Regions from separate parts of the Homo sapiens genome. Here region 2 is linked to region 1. The links come from fine-mapping of genetic effects on gene expression. A gene starts in region 1. The other region holds a variant in brackets. All regions are shown on one strand. Distances are between the middles of the regions.

The links. PIP is the estimated chance that this variant, and not a neighbour inherited with it, causes the effect.
Region 2: its variant is fine-mapped to the expression of KCNJ3 in aorta (GTEx, PIP above 0.99).

The regions. Positions count from the first base shown.
Region 1 is chr2:154,693,673-154,702,190 of GRCh38, forward strand. It overlaps KCNJ3 (potassium inwardly rectifying channel subfamily J member 3), which reads left to right and starts at 5,023. Exons shown (of 3, transcript NM_002239.4): 1 at 5,023-5,805. The coding sequence starts at 5,104.
Region 2 is chr2:154,528,066-154,536,583 of GRCh38, forward strand. The region is part of intron 2 of LOC105373693 (a long non-coding RNA gene); the gene reads left to right. Among named protein-coding and RNA genes, the nearest start is that of GALNT13-AS1, 75 kb to the left of the region's middle. The variant T/C (reference allele first, on the strand shown) is at 4,110.

The DNA.
Region 1 (8,518 bases):
GGTTTTTTCTTTCATATTAGATATACTCTTTTCCCCACACCGTTCAGTTACATAATAGGATAAGTGCATGTAGAAAGTATAAAACACAGAATCATATTCTTCATTTTTGAAGTTATAGTTATTCATGATATTACTAATTTTGGACACAGCAAATAAGACACTGCCAGAAGTACTTTCCAGGCAGAATAAATATGTAGCTTGCTCCTAGCCGAGTTTGTTAAATATAGCTTTGATCCCCCCCACCCTCATGAACTGTATGGTAGTTTTCTCGTAATCTACCACCCTATCTTTAAATGTTAGACTCCAGATGATTTTGTATTCTGCAGTTACATTTTCCAGATCTTTTCTGGCTTTGTGGCCTGGCCTGAAATTGTGTGCCTCTCTCTCCTTTGACCCATTCTGCTTGCAGTGTTTCACTTCAGTTCATCAGACAGCACCTGATTAGGAGGCCTTCCATCATCCATTCCCCACACATCCTCCTGGCCTCTGCACAACGGGGCTGGCTGCCCTCCAGAACCTCATCCTGGAAGCAGCTGCCCTCACAGGAAAAGATGAGTTTGGTTCATCTGTGAACATTTTCAAGGAGTTGAACTCAATGTCACAAATAGGTCAAAGCCTCAGTGACATTTAAAGTGTGACAAAATGGCATCCTTAAAAATATTTAATTTCCCTGGCAGGACTGTGTCATTAAAAGAATAGAAATCTTGACAATAAGCAGATGTGTTTTGGAATCCCTGCTTCACTGCCTATCTGTGTAATATAAATGCTAACCTGTACAGTTCTAAGCACATTACCTGGCACATTAAAGTAGGTTCTTAATAAATTTTGGTTCTCTCTAAAACTCTATCAAGTGTTTATCATGCGTAAGGCCAGTTTGGATCATGGAATACCGGATGGTACCAAATTATTAAGAAGTCGATGCTCAGGGTGCTCAGAGGGAATCTTCATAAATTCTAAGCTGAAATACCAGTTAGAATGTGAAAAATGCCACATTGCAAATCTAGGGAAATGAGAGTTCAGAGGAGGGATGTATTACTCTTAGTGGGAGTATATAAGGAAAAACTTTATGACATCAATAGCAATTGAAATAAAATATGAAGAAGTCCTTCCCTTTCCTTACATACTAGTGCCTATTATTTGAACTTTGCAGGTGTAGAAAAAAGATATTCTAAGTGATGAGAAAAAAAGTGAGCAAATGAAGATAATATAGGGCATGTTTGAGAAATACCTAATAGTCAAAGTTGGCTAGAGCAAAGTGCCCATTAAAAGGAAGGTAGGAGATAATTTGGAAAGCTAGATTATGCCATGTGTTGGAGAATCTTAGATTTCACCTGCATGAGAAGCTAGGCCTATAAAGGAAGAAGGCCTTTGCCACGAATCAGGAATCCTAGGCTCTTTTCTTACTCTGCCACTACCTGGTAAGGGACGGTAGAGCATCCAGGTTCTACAGTCATATTGTTCTGTGGTCAAATCTGTTTCCACTTATCAACTCTGTGACATTGAACAAGTTATTTCGCCTTTATATCCCCAATTTCCTCACTTGTAAAATGAGAGGATTAGACTAGACCATGTCTCCTGAAGTATAAACTTATTTGTTTATAAATTTGGTTGCTAGAAAATGGCAAAGGTTTTTCATGAAAAAGTGTTTTTCAAAAAGTGGGAATGTTTTAAGATCTTCCAGATGAAATAACTGGAGAACTTTTATTTTCTATAACAATACTAAACACATGGTTTAAGGTGAGAGATCTAGTACTACTATCCTGGGCAGTCTGCAGGAGAGGAAAACCAAATAAAGACAAGAAAGTTATTTGAGTTGGGCCTAACTTGAAATGAGAATTTGAAGAACAGTAGTGACTTTTTTTTTTTAAAGAGAGGGGGAATTATGAGGGATATTGCAGCAATAACAATAAAAAAGACTTGGAACCTGATTCAGTATCATTTCTAAAGCTAACGAGCATAGGAAGTATTACTCTTTTTCAACAAAAACTTACATGTTTTTTATATTGCCATATAAGTGATCTGATTTAGTCATTACTTTTATTTAATTCCATATTACTCAGAGAGCTTCAATGCATGTAAAGTTTCCAGTGATATAGATTGGCACATATTATTGATCTAATAAATATTTATTGTGGACCTAGTATGTGATACTTTTCTAGGTACTGGAGACATAGCAGAGAACAAGACAGATGAGGTCCTTGCTCTTGTACAGCTTACATGCTACAACTGATAATGGTGGAAGAGAAAGACAACAAACAAATGAAGAAAATGGTAGCTAAAAAAAAAAGTGAGATGAGGAACATAGATAAGGTTGATGTGATGGGAATACCTGAGATGCTAGGGAAGGCTTCCCTGAGAAGGATGCATTTAGGTTGAGAGTTGAATGAGTGAAGGAGCGAGCAACACGGAGCGGCAGAGCAAGAACTTTCTAGGTAGAGGGAACAGATCTAGTGCAAAGGCCCAGGGCTGGAGCTATGCTTTGGTGTGTATCAGGAATTGAAAGAAGCCAAGCTGCCAAGGGCATAATGAGCTTGGGGGAGAGTAGTCAGAGATGAGATGAGAGTATAGGTGTTAGTTCACAGCATGCTGCCAACTCCAAAAGCTCATTTGTAATCTCTTCTTGGTCTTGTTGCAACTTTATAGCCCACTATATAACATCCTTCATAGCAGAAATAAAAAAAACACATTTACTCTCTTTTTTCATACCAACACTAGGAAAATGTTCAAACTCCCAATTTCTCAGGGGAGAAAATTAGGTCTCAAAGTTGTTCAGCTACTTGCTCAAGGTCACACAGCTTGTAAATGGCACAGACGCGACTCAAATCAGGTCTTATGATTCTAGGACCAGAGAAGTTTCCACTTCCCACGGTGTCACTTTCCCTTCTTATGTAATTTTAAGAGAACAAACAGATAGTTACTGACCTTTTATCAGCGAACTGGCAGGAGAAGCATCTGTAACTGAGGATAGATGTTTTAACCAAATAACAGTGAGAGTCCCCTGCTTATGGCTGACAACCTGACATGCACTTTCCTGCAGTTGGTTTATAAGTAGAGAGGTAGAGAGGAGTACCTATTGGCAGAGAATGCATAGAGTAATTATGTACTTATTTTCCTTTCCATGGGAATCTTATAGCAGCCTTTTGCTTTTATAATGCCATGATTTGATGATTTTCCAACAAAATCAACTTCATGTATCTGGGCTGACTGAAATATGCCTTAAGATACCATGGCATTTTAAAGCAAACGTGAAATGTGGTAAACAAGCTGGTATTTACTCATGGGCACTCTATTAGCTATTTCTGCACTTTGCCCCTCCATTAAGTTAACTGCCAGGCTGAGGCCATTAAAATCCAGCCTTCTTCCTTCAATTATAGGCACACATTAACTCTAGATATTCTGAGCCTTTCTAATAGAGCCATTTGCAGAAAGGATTTCTATTAGTGTTTCTCTCCTTTCTGTTCTCATCCTAAGGCCCCTCCTGCTTCCTGCAACTTTGAGTTCTGAATATGCCTATCTGAGAGCCAGTTGGGATCTCTGTTTATGATGCAACCCCAAATCCAGGCATCCGTTTAAACGAGTGCCCAGTTACAGAGACATATTGTACTTCTCTTCCTTCAGAGAGCAGCATTTGCTTTTTACTGGGGGCTTTCTGACTGATGCAGGGGGCGAGGAAGGAGAGTTGGCGGGCGTTTGGGAGCAGATTTAGAGCCGCTTCTCATTGGAGGGGCTCGCTTTTCCTGAGCTGCCAGACACTGCAGGCTCAACTGAGGCTCGGAGGTGCAATTCAGGCTGGTGGAGCAGCGGGGGAAGGCAGGGACAGGCGGGGCTAGCGCGGCTCTGCAGCTGATCACACGCACCACCACACACACCACATTCCTGCTGCCCCGGCTTGCGCCTCGCATCTTCCACCCGGGGCCACCGAGGCGCTGACAAGGAGTGGGGGACCGAAGAAGGAAGAGGCAGAGGAAAAGCTAGAGCGGCGCTACTGTTTAACCTGAAAGTCTGACCGGCAGCCCAAGGCTCGAACCCCGTCCAGCAGCACCGCTGTCGCCTGGAAGGAGGGCACAGCGCCAAGGAACCCACGAGCCCCCGCTCGAGTCATTCTGTGCTCTGTGCGCCAAGGATCTTTCTGGCAGGGACAGCGCGGTGCCCTCAGGGAGGTGCGGAGCTTGGGGGACCTGCATTGGCGCCCATCGTGGTACACCAGGAAAAGTGGGAACGAGGAAAACAGCCGTGAGCGCAGAGTGCGAGGCCAGGCTGCCGCTACCGCCCGCTGCGCCGCCTCCTGCCCTCTCCCGCTGGGTGAGTGCCCAGGCTTCGCGCACTGCCGTGTCTCAGCTGAGCGCGGGGGCGGCCTGCGGGCCCTTGAGGGTCCGCCGGAGGGCCCCGGTGGCGCCCGCGGAAACTCGGCGGTCGGGGGACGCCAGGCGGACAGGTCTCTGGAGTCCGGAACCCGGGAATCTGAGCCCGGAGGGCGTGGGTAGGGGGCGTTGCACCAGTGCCCGGCAGACATGCCTTTGGGCGGGATTTTGGCTAAAAGATAGGAGACAGGTGCGCCGGGGGTGCGGGGAGCGGTCCCAGGGGGCGGGAGATTGGGGAGCGGCGGGGAGGGGGGAGGGTCTGGTCCAGGCAGGTAAAGGCAGCTTCTTAGGCAGCCAGCGAGTTGGCAGGTGGGTTGGGACTCGCTTGTCAACTCATTAATTTTAAGCAGTCAGTTTGGGGGTACTGCAGGATAATCAGGAGGGCCGTGGGGAGTCAAGAGGTGACCCGGGATGCCGGTGGTGGGGAAAGAAAAGAGGAGCCTCTGGAAGCTTGGAGGCAAAATTGCGCTTGGGTTCCTGTTCCTTGCATCCCTCCTGGCTTGAGTGCGGGAGAACACTTTTTAAAGACTCACCTTGGAAAGAAGGCCTCCGTCCCAGGGGAGAAGGAGAGGCGTCTGCAGGGGGCAGAGACCGCAGCTACCTGCCGGGTGCGCCCCCCACCCAGGAGCGCTCGCTTCGCCCCCTTTCCTCCCCCGCCCCCACCTCCTTATTGGTGCTAGTTTGCAGCGCCCAGCTCCTGCGCCTTCGCTTCGCGTTTGAATCTGGCTCGCCCCTTCGTATTATGTCTGCACTCCGAAGGAAATTTGGGGACGATTATCAGGTAGTGACCACATCGTCCAGCGGCTCGGGCTTGCAGCCCCAGGGGCCAGGCCAGGACCCTCAGCAGCAGCTTGTGCCCAAGAAGAAGCGGCAGCGGTTCGTGGACAAGAACGGCCGGTGCAATGTACAGCACGGCAACCTGGGCAGCGAGACAAGCCGCTACCTCTCGGACCTCTTCACCACGCTGGTGGACCTCAAGTGGCGCTGGAACCTCTTCATCTTCATTCTCACCTACACCGTGGCCTGGCTTTTCATGGCGTCCATGTGGTGGGTGATCGCCTACACTCGGGGCGACCTGAACAAAGCCCACGTCGGTAACTACACGCCTTGCGTGGCCAATGTCTATAACTTCCCTTCTGCCTTCCTCTTCTTCATCGAGACGGAGGCCACCATCGGCTATGGCTACCGATACATCACAGACAAGTGCCCCGAGGGCATCATCCTCTTCCTCTTCCAGTCCATCCTGGGCTCCATCGTGGACGCCTTCCTCATCGGCTGCATGTTCATCAAGATGTCCCAGCCCAAGAAGCGCGCCGAGACCCTCATGTTCAGCGAGCACGCGGTGATCTCCATGAGGGACGGAAAACTCACGCTTATGTTCCGGGTGGGCAACCTGCGCAACAGCCACATGGTCTCCGCGCAGATTCGCTGCAAGCTGCTCAAAGTAAGTGCTCCCCGCCCCTTCCCCACCGGGAGACCTGCGTCCCCCAAACCCGCGGAGTAACTCGTCTGAGAACCAGCCCGGGCCCCCTCCCCTGGTTCTACCTATAGCCACAGGTAAACTTCCTTTTGGGGGGTTGGGGGTTGGAGGACTGGGCAAAGAATGCGGTTGACAGTTCTGTTCCTTTTCCACTCACTCTCGTGCTCTTGTTTATATTCGTCATTTCGGATCTGCTTGTATCACTTACTGGACTAGTAACACGTGAGGACTGCTGTTGGCTCCTGGAGCCATGAGGGCAATTAGTGCCCTGTTCGCCTTCCTGTCCCTGTTGCTTCGCTATTCAGAGCGATTTTATTTGTTGTCTACACACTACCCCATTCAATGCGAGGTACTAGAACTCAACTGAACAGCTGTTATTTTGAAGAAATAGGTGCTGAACTTGCCTCAACTTTCACGATGGGCTTTTCTTATTTTTTTCTTTCCTTTTTTTCCCCCTAATAATATTAGGAGGCGGATTACTCCTCTGGACCCAATGACTTTAACTCTATGGTCATCTTTTTAACAAACACACAGATACAAGAAGCAGATAGTAAAGTGGAAGAAACCACACTTGGTTCTTTTAAATTTTTATTTTTACTAAATATTTTCTTGGAGAAGTATTCTTTGAAAGCTTGAGTGCTTTTCCTGTAGAGCCTCTTGTTAATTTTATTCTTAATTGCCTGTTTCTGTGAAGCCTTTGTCAATTACAGATTTCACTTGAAGCTTTCAGCATCCATTAAAGAAGAATTGCTTCCTACCATCAACGGTGTAAATGCTAAAACAAATTGCACATGGAGTGGTTATTAAAGCAAGGTCCGTCTAGTCGTTAGAGGGCACCACCACAAACAAGAGAAGTCCTTCTTAATCACTCATCCAATTAGAGTATGGGAAGGAAGGCTTAAAGCCCAGTTGTTTGTCTCTGTGTGTGATTTACAATTCATTTTTTTCCCTAGAGGGATTTGTCTTAGTAGTTTTCAGATGTCCATAAATTGAAAAAGATGACCTTAAATAAATAGTTCGTACAATGAAAAATATTTATCTGAGGTTGCGTAGAGAACTGAAGCCAGAGTCTGAATTTAGTATTAATAAAATGAAAATCTGATCAATATTTGAGATTTTGCCTTTGAAATTTCAATTTCCAATCCACAAGTATATATTGTTTTACACAGCCCCAACTTAATGTTGTAGTTAAAAGGGATCCAATGTGCTTTTAAAAAGTTTTGCTCTTGTGTCATTTTCATTATTCACTTACAAGATCTTACCATAATTATCCTTGACCAAGTTGCTCAGTAAAGTGTTTAAATTAAAGCAGTTCACTTGTCCTGTCACATCATATCATATGCATATTTACTGTGCTACATACAGTAAATAAACTACATTTTGTACACCACAGTGGAAAATTATCAACCTGGTTCTGATGTAAACGTTCATTAACTATGAATAAATAATTTGGGTAGATCATATTCATATATAATTAATTTCAATGAACTGCATACAATTTTTTAAAATTTAACTTAGTGTATTGTTATTGACCGCTGTTTGAACCAAGCAGTTTGTCAGATCAAGCTGGGCAGTTGTGTTGTAGATATGTTTATTACAATAGTAACTGTATGTGTCTTTAGCTTTGCATAGACCACAATATAGCACCTGCTTCTTTAGGTTAGGCCTACTAGACAGATAGAAATACTTTGTTAGTATAGTGGCAAGGTTTCTGTTCAAGCAATCCATGTTTATGTATCACTTTGAGACTTACTGAAGAGTAGTTTACAATATTAACTGATGTAATGGAAATTGACAATTAGACATTAAAGGTTATTTATAGACATTCTTTAGTTTTTTAAACATTTAAGGTTATTTATTACAGATGTCTTTTCCAGACAACATATTTTTGATGTTTATAGATTTTATTACATTTTATTTCAACAAAGCCAGTCATAATTAGAATTAACCTATATGTTAGTTTTTGTTTATTTTCTTCATACAAAGGTACAATGATTCTGAAGCACTCAGTCTCTACACTGGTGCAGGGTACTGATAATAATTTTTCTGCCTAAGGAAATGTACCACATATACCATAAAGAGTATCCTAGTTAAAAAGATGAAAGATGTATAGTGTCGACAAATTTGGAGCAAGGTGCTATATTAACACAAGGTGATAAAAACATCTAGTTAAAACAATACATATAATATTCTTATAAAGTCTTTTACTTTTGATTTGTTAGGAAGATGTCAGTGCTAGAAGTAAACACGATTTACCTGTGGCATCAATTTATATTTAAACAAAATTATGGTGAAATTCTCCCCATGGCGAAGGGAGAGAGTTGATCTGTGAGTAGCTCTTCAACTAGTCAGTTAGCGTAGCTTGTTCAAAGTTAATCTTTCCTGTAGGCATGGTAATTTAAATGAATTGCTGTAGTTCCTGTTATTCCTTAGACTTCATTAAAAAGGAGTCATGTTTTATTGGGGAAATAATAACATTCAGCAAAATTAGAGGGGAGATTTGCCTTTAATAAGTTGCTCTCATTTTCTCTTAAGAACTGAGATTAAGTGACCTAAAACAGTCAACTGTATTTTTAAATAGAAGCTATACCAAAATCTTGGCATAATAATATGTCCCTATCAGTTTTATACATTATTCTGATTAAATATTACACACAATTTCCCCCTTTTAACCTCC
Region 2 (8,518 bases), 170 kb before region 1:
AGGCTGTGGGAACTCCCGTTCAGATGCTGGGATCAGGGATTCCCCTCTGGCTAAGGCTAGCTTAAATGTTCCCTTTGTGGGTGGACATCAGCTGAGTTTGGTCTGGTTTTGTTTTCTGCTATAACAGGGCAGCACTACGTTCAGTGTCTCACAGCTGCTGCGCTTTCCCTGTCCTCAGTGCACAAAAATGCTCTCTGCGCCGCCCTGCAGCTGCAAGGGGATGGGGGAGGGGGTCACATCAGTGATTTGAGACTGGTTTTCCTATCTCTTTCAGTGATATGAAGTTAAAACCAGGTACTGTGAGTGTTCACCTGGCTTTTGGTTCTTATAAAGGTGGTTTTTCAGTGTGTAGATAATTGTTAAATTGGTGTCCTTGTGGGAGGGACAATCAGTGGAGCCTGCTATTCTACCATTTTGCTCTTCCCCCTCCTCCTAAAAAGATTGAACATTAATATTAAAAATACACTAATACAAAACTAAAAATTTTGGTCCCTTATGTTAGAACAACAAGGTTTTCTTAAATTATTGGTTGGCTTTTAATAAAAATACATTTTTAATTAAAAATAAAAATTACATCTTTAAATTTTGTAATCTGTAGCTTTTTGAAATGTCTCAGATATATATCTCAGAAGTTCAATTTTTGCTGTACCTTGCTGCATGTGATTTGTGGTCATACATCATTGCCTTCTGTTCTTTCTCCTCTTAAAAAGATACATTTTCTTGTTTGTTTGTTTGACTGGGATGATAACTCTTTCCTTCAACATTTTTGTCAATTCCTGTAGTTTTTTTCCTCTGGTTCTAACTTTGCTGTCATGGCCTGATGCTGAAATGTTTATTTTGAAGGTCTAGAAAAGCAATGTTTTCTTCACATGTAATGTGATCTGTGCACCTGGCTTTGCTTGGTATGTCTAAATTGGTCAATGTAACCAGGAAGCTTCCCAAGCTGTTACTAAAAGCCATATATTTCCCATTTCAAGGTACTAGTTTTCTTGTTTACATTCCTCGAAAATATAATGTGTACTTGTAACCCTGAACACGGTCTTTCTATGTCTAATTAAATTCAAGTATCCTTTTCATCAGTTTTGACTTCCAGCTTATCCAAATGGGCTTCACTTAAGGAGCTGTAATCACAATACAGGAAGTTTTTCTGGACCTTTTTGACACTGGCATAAAAAAGAAAGATTTTACATTTTATCAAGATAATTCCTGTGTTGTCTTATTTAGATTTTTTTATTATTTAGGAAAACTGAGCTTTCAAAGGTTGAGGTTTTTGTGTCTTTTGATTATTGCTCTAGTTAAATAAATAGTTATTATTTTACGATGACCTGTGATTCTGTTTCAATTAAGTGTTTTAAACCTTTTGACATTTTTGGCAGCTTTCTCCAGGATTAATATCCTACATTAAGTCTCTTGGGTCTAAAATTAACTTTTAGATTTTCCAATTGGGCTTCTGAGAAAACTCACAAAATGTCTCTCATCTTGCAGAGATTAAATGATTAGATTATTTGGTAAATTTTATGTAAAATATTATCAAATGATAGATTACAGTAAATATATAAGCTTTTGTTATCCATAGTTATTGTCTAAATTTTTCTTAAAAACATTTGCAGTCAGCTTCAGTCTAAAATTGCTTTTCATGAAAAAGAATCTAATAAGTATAGGTAAAAAGAGGAGACAATAATAATACAATTAATGAAAGAATATGCAACTGTATGTCCTGGTTTTATTGGATGATTATCATGTTTTTTATTTTCAATCCTTAATTCATTTTGATTTTATTAAGTATATTCTGCTATATATAATTTGTAGTATCTTTGTAGTAGTTCTGTTGAATATTATGTTAAGGGCAGGAAAAGACAATGTTATGTTTGGTGCAGAATAAAGGTGAATAGGCAAAACTTCACTCCTGCTGAAAACCAAAGCACATTTCAAAGCCAATTCAGATTCAGCAGAAGAGGAGATAGTCTCCACTCATTGATGGAGAAGCAGTACAGAATTTGTGGCGGTCTCTAACCCACTACTCTTTCCTTTCAAGCTGACTACTCTCACTTAAGTTTCTCTCATTTGACAGACCCAGGCCCTTCTGCTTATCAAACCCTCTCTTTTGTATGGTTTTGGATTATGTTAGCTAAATGGGAAACTGCATGAAGTTTGGAAGGTGGAAATTAAGTAGTAATCCTTACTCTCCGAAGATCTCTAGTATTAGCTGTGGTGACAAGACAGACTCATGAATGGCAAGATTCCTGCTTGTCCTCACTTTCTTCCACTCCATGTTCAGCTCCTACAGAACTGCGGATCCTGCTAACCAAGAGTGGCCCCAAGTCCCTCACTAGACACTGGCTGAAGACCCATAGAATCAACAGTTTCTTAAGAACTTCTCTACCAGCTCACCCTTTGTAGTTCCACCTCAGTGCCTGCACTTGCTGACTTCTTATAGTGACTGATGGGTATCTCCTCTGATTCTTCTATTCTCTCTTTCAATACTATCCTTACCCATTGCCTCCTCCAAATGTGTAAGGCCTAATTTCTATGACAAATCCCTTATCCCATAACTCTTCAGAGCTCAGCTTCTCTGATTAATCCCTGACAGATACACGCAGATAACTATCTTCTTTAAAAACTTTACAACTAATTTTTAAAATATCTGAAATGCAGCATTTAGAATGATATAAGGAAGAGTTGTAGAGCATTATCATTGATTTTATTTCTATTGCAATAAAATTCTGGGGCCAATTATATTTAGGGAAAAATAAATACAAAACAATATAGACAAAAGTATTTATTGATTACAATGCTTGTATGGAGACTACACTGTATACTGAGGAGAAAACTGTAAAATCAACTGAATAAATAATCTCTTACCAAAAGTCACTTGACTAACTTAGAAGACTCTATTATTTATAATCTCAGCACCTTAACACATAAAGGTTTACTTTTGCTCTCACTATGTGTCCAGTGTAGGCCACTTTGAAGATTTGCTGTATAGCATCACTTGGGTGCACACGCCAATAGAGGCTCTACCATCTTGGAGCTGTGCCATCTGGCACAGGAAGCCTTATAGTGGTAGAGACAACTGGTGAGTTGAACTCCCACTCTTCTATACTTTTGCTCAGAAGTGACACATTTCACTTATTTTCCAGCCAAAACTATTCACATGGGTCTATCTAACTGCAAAGAGGTAGGGATATGTGAGGCTGAAGATGGAATGTTTGATGAGGGCAACTCACTCTGCCATAGAGAGGGAACAAACATTAAAACCTGAAAGACATTTTCACAAAATATCTTAAAGTACAAATAAATAATAAAAGAAACTCTGGGAAGACTGATGAAAAGAGTGATTTAAATTAGTTGATGAATTATTATGGCTAGAAACTTTCTTGAAAAATGAGGACTACTGAGGCAAGATGCAAAGAATATGTTGAGTGTGGATTAGTGTTCGTAGATAGTCAGACCCCCTGGTAAAAGCAGGAAGTTAGAGGTTGATGATGAAATGCTGGAAATTAAGTTCCTATGAGAAAAGATTCTCATACAGGTAAGACAATAATGAGAAAAGTAGCTTAAAATCAGTCACCCAACAGTTAAGGTAGGATGGTTGATGAGAAGGGCTTTAACTGTATGTATTAGTAATTTGGCTCTGCAGGTTAAAAAATTCTAGTGGATTCTGGAGTGTGTGTACATGGCCAAACTAAAAAAAAAAAAGAAAAGAAATTAGTCTAGCGACCATGTGAAGAGTAGAGACAGAAGGCTGACAGTCAAATACATTAGTATGTTCTTACAGGATATTAAAATCTCATATCTGGCTGGGTGCAATGGCTGACACCTGTAATCTCAGTACTTTGGGAGGCCAAGGTGGGCCGATCACTTGAGATCAGGGTTTCAAGACCAGCCTGGTCTATATGGCAAAACCCCGTCTCTACTAAAAATACAAAAATTAGCTGGGCATGGTGGCACACACCTGTATTCTCAGCTACTCAGGAAGCTGAGGCAGGATAATTGTTTGAACCTAGAAAAAAAAAAAACTTCTTATCGCTATGAAACAATTTTTTACTGAAACTAACTGTAAAGTTGTCTGCTGGGTTATATATAGTCTTACGTTCTTGGACAAGTAT[T/C]TCCTTGAACAAACAGCTAAGTCTTGTTGACATAGGTGGCCTCAGTTCTCAGTCCTAATAGTTGAGTTGTTGATAAAAGTGGTTTCAAATCTCACAAGGAAAGTTTGTAGAGAGAATAATAAGACTTAGCAGCAAATTGACTGGAAAAGGGTTGAAGGAGTCTAAATTGACTCCAAGAGTCAATTTAAGAACTTGGAGGATCAGAGGATGCTTTACGGGAAGAGTCTGTGATCTTTGTTGCTAATATAAATGACGTAGAAAAATTATATAGCCTCATGGTTATGAAAACAGGAAACTGAAAATTTAGTATTCAGTCTCCAATAATTGACAGTTGAAATCCTGTGAATGAGTGAATGTAGAAGGAAGAAGAATGGGAGTGAAAGTAGTGAAAAAATAAAGACTTGAAAATTACCTCAGGGATGATAGTAGCTAATAGCCAGTAATGAATAATAAATTAATGCCTGAAAGGGAAAGAAGATAAGAAGGAGAGTGCTATTATGGAAGTTACACATGATAGGTAGATTTATGGTATAAAATTAAAGAGGTAAATGTTTGGCTGTGGTCTAGTATGAGACTTTTATTTCACAAATTAGAAAACTGAGATTAAGAATGACTGATTTAGGCAAGACCATTCCACTGGTTACCAGCAGAGCTAGAATTTAAAGCAGGTCTTAGTTTTTGGCTGGCCTGTGTAACACACCGGCTGGCCACGTCCATGCAAGTAAGACATCAACATGTATAAGCACTTAGAAGAGAGTGCTGGCTTTGCCCTGGAGGAAAGTAATAAATGACTCTCAACTTAACACTTGCTGAAAAGTTATGACAAAACAGACCTGAAAGTGCTTGCCTTGAGGAGTGAAATTGGTGAGGAGAATAAGAGGTAGTGGATAGAGACTACCTATTTGCATAGCTTAGGCAGACTGGCCTGATAATTAAGAGGCATTTGTTTGTATTTAGGTCATCTTAGCTGAATTAAGGCTTAAGCTTTTTTAAGTGAACAATGTATATATTTCATATTTTTAGAACTCTCCAGTTTTATTTCTTCCAGATTTTCTTGTGGCATAGCCTGTCACAAAATTCAACCTTAAAAAGGTCAAACCTATTATAAAGCAAAAGTGTATGAAATTTTTCCTTGTTCTTTCTTTATGCTTTCTGTCGTAATTTTGAATGGTTAATTGGAAACCAACTTCAACTTCAAATGCCCAATTCTAGTGGAAGACAAATGCCCCTTGTAACATGGCTAGCTGACTGTCAGATCTGCTCAGCAAAGCTATGTCCTTACTTATTTGGGGGACCTTGAGAGTGAATTTAACCAATAATACCTAGTTCATCAGTGTAAGGGAGGGCAGGTTTGCTTTCAGCTTTGCTGTCAGTAGATCAAGTACGAAGTAGTCCTTTAACAGTTTCCTCGGTTAGTGTTAAAAATTTCTTTGAGCTAAGGTGCCTGATTTTTACAGTAATTATGAAGGTCCCACTACTATTAGCCCCCAAATAACCCTGAAATCTGTTTTGCCTGCAGGTATAAGGCCAGGCGCTTATACACTCAACAGTCTTTTGGGGGCAGGTTTACGCCTCTCTCTGCCTAATACCAGGGCTTGTGTTCTCAGTCAGGGAAGTCCTGGATCCTTTATTTACCAGCCACTATCGTTAGTGTGAAACATATTTTACTGGGGGGCCATTGTTTTCAACTGTGCTGCTGCACTAGGCCCCAGCAGACCAGACAAAACTAAATAAGGCTTACTTGTGCAAAACGCTACATAATCAAACTGAAACTTTAAGAAAGCTGCTAAATCCCTAAACAGATGGGTTTTCCCTAAAAACAGGAGATTCAAAGCAACCAATTAGAAAAGGCACAGTCAACCTAAATTATCATAATAAGGAAATTCTCTCTGCTCTAACCCTTACAAGAAAAATAATCTGAAGTAAACTGATGTTAACCAGTCCGATTTGTTCTATTATTCTGTTTCTGTGTTCCCATCTTACAAAAACCAACTGTTCTGCCATGACCAGTGGAGCACTCATTCTATTTTGTGGAATAAAATGCTGCCCAATTCTAGAATTACAAATAAAAAACAATTAGATCTCTAAACTAAGTTTGTTGCAATTTTATCTTCTGACATTAGGTAAAACTCTCTAGTCTTTACTTTTTTCCATTTTAAAATTGAGCTAGTAATAGAACTTGTTGTGCAAGATTATGTTGAAGATTAAATGAGAACACATTTGCGAAGCCTTCAATATATTGACTAACTTGATGAAAGCTTCAAAACTAATAAATGGTGGAAATTGGATTCACACTCAGTTCTGTATCTTTCCTTCACAGTAAATATAATATCTGTTTCATGAGTGTAGCTGGTTACTATGGCTATAATTGTTGTGTGTAAAAAAATCTGTAATTCATGTGGAATTGCAAAAGTTAATTAGACCCTACTCTTCTCTGTATCACCATAGCATATCACAATGCAGTTGAAGAGGGGGGATATTCATACAAGTGACAAAAACTACTCAGGAGGCGGTAATATGTGCCAACTGAACAGTGGACATTGGCTGTGTGAGGGAAACTGAAACTATTTCATCCCAAAACATACTTTTTTGACATATTTCAAGATGGCTATTCAGAGGAGCTAGAAATACAAGACTAGCTAAAAAGCTGTCTTCTGAAGGAAGATTTGCATCTGTAGAGGAAATAGTCAAGTAAACGACAGATGCAAACAGACTTTCTCTGAAGGCCCCCCGTCCGTATCTAGAAACCTTTAAAGGTGTGACAAACATTTACCACTGGCTACCATCTATTCCTTCTGAGAGCTGCTACCTGTGAGAATTCATCTGTACCTTATTTAGGGAGGAGAATAGGGCCTGTAGCCAGGGAACCTAAGGATTTCCTAGAACTAAGTCAAATGGAAGCACATCAGCTATGACAGGAAACATTCTCTTCATTTACGTAGGGCGTACACTGAGTAAAAGACTTTGTAACTTTACTTCATCCTCTTCATTTACATAGGGTATACACCAAGCAAATAACTTTGTAACTTCACTTTAGCCTCTTCATTTACATAAGGCATACACCACGTAACCAATGGAAACCTCTAGAGGGTATTTAAACCCCAGATAACTCTGTAACTGGGCTCTTGAGCCCACTCATCCCACTCTCACTCTGTGGAGTGTACTTGCATTTTCAGTAAATCTCTGCTTTTGTTGCTTCGTTCTTTCCTTGCATGTTTTGTCCAGTTCTTTGATCAAGACCCCAAGAACCCGGACACGCTCCACTGGTATCATTATCTGTATAAAAAGAATGCCTTTTCTGCAGGTCTTTCCTCTTCTTCCCATAACCTGTCTTTGCCATGATCCAATCCTCTATTCTTTCTGTAACCTCAAGATGATACAAAAGTGTCAGCATCTTGCCTTTCTTTGGGTTTTTATATTGTGTATGAATCTTGTGTATATAATAAAATTTTTATGCCCTTTTTCCTGGTAATCAGTCTATTATCAGTTTGTTTTACAGACTCAAATTATTGAAACTTCAAGGGAAAATTTTAAACTTCCCTACATGTGTTAAGATTCAGTTTGAAGGAGAGATATGCGAACAGGCAAACTTCATGAAGAAGGGACTTGAGCTAGACTTAGAAGGGGTGGTCAATTTTGAATAAAAAGAATGAAAAAGGGAGAATATTCCAAGCCAGAATTAAGTACAAGCAGAGGAGCTTGTATGGACCAGGGAGATTTGGCTGCTGGAGTGATTGAGTAGAGAAACAAGGAGAAATACATAGAAAGAGAGAGGCAGTGATGAATGGTAGAGCACTTTGCATGCCAGGCTAAAAGTTTGACTTTTCCATGAACAATGGTAAACTGATAAAATGGTTAGTGCTTTTGCATATGTGTTTTATCTTCTGATCAAATTTTCTTAAAACTGCTGTCTGAATTTGTGCCATGTTTTCAGCTGGCATTGGCCCGAATCTTATTAATTAGCTAAAAATCACAATTTCTCTAAGTTTAGTAAGATTTATCTGTCCATCCATTTTATAGTGAAAGCAGAAATCAAAAATGCAGATTTGAAACCCCCTTAGAAAATATTTAAATAAACTACTACAACAGAAAAATTATGAAGAAGAAAATTCCTGACCAAATTATTTTCGATAGGAAAAAGAAAACCTTTATTTATAGAATAACTAAAAAACTGTTTATGTGGAATATTTTCTTTAATATTGTTAGGATAAAGCTACATTAAATCTAAAGTCTAGAAACATAATATTGTCATTGTCCGCTGCTAGTTTTCTTTTCTGTTTTTTTTTTTTGTTTTTTGTTTTTTTGTTTTTTTGTTTTTTTGAGACAGAGTCTCGCTTTGTCGCCCAGGCTGGAGTGCAGTGGCATGGCGCAATCTTGGCTCACTGTAACTTCTGCCTCCCGGGTTCACG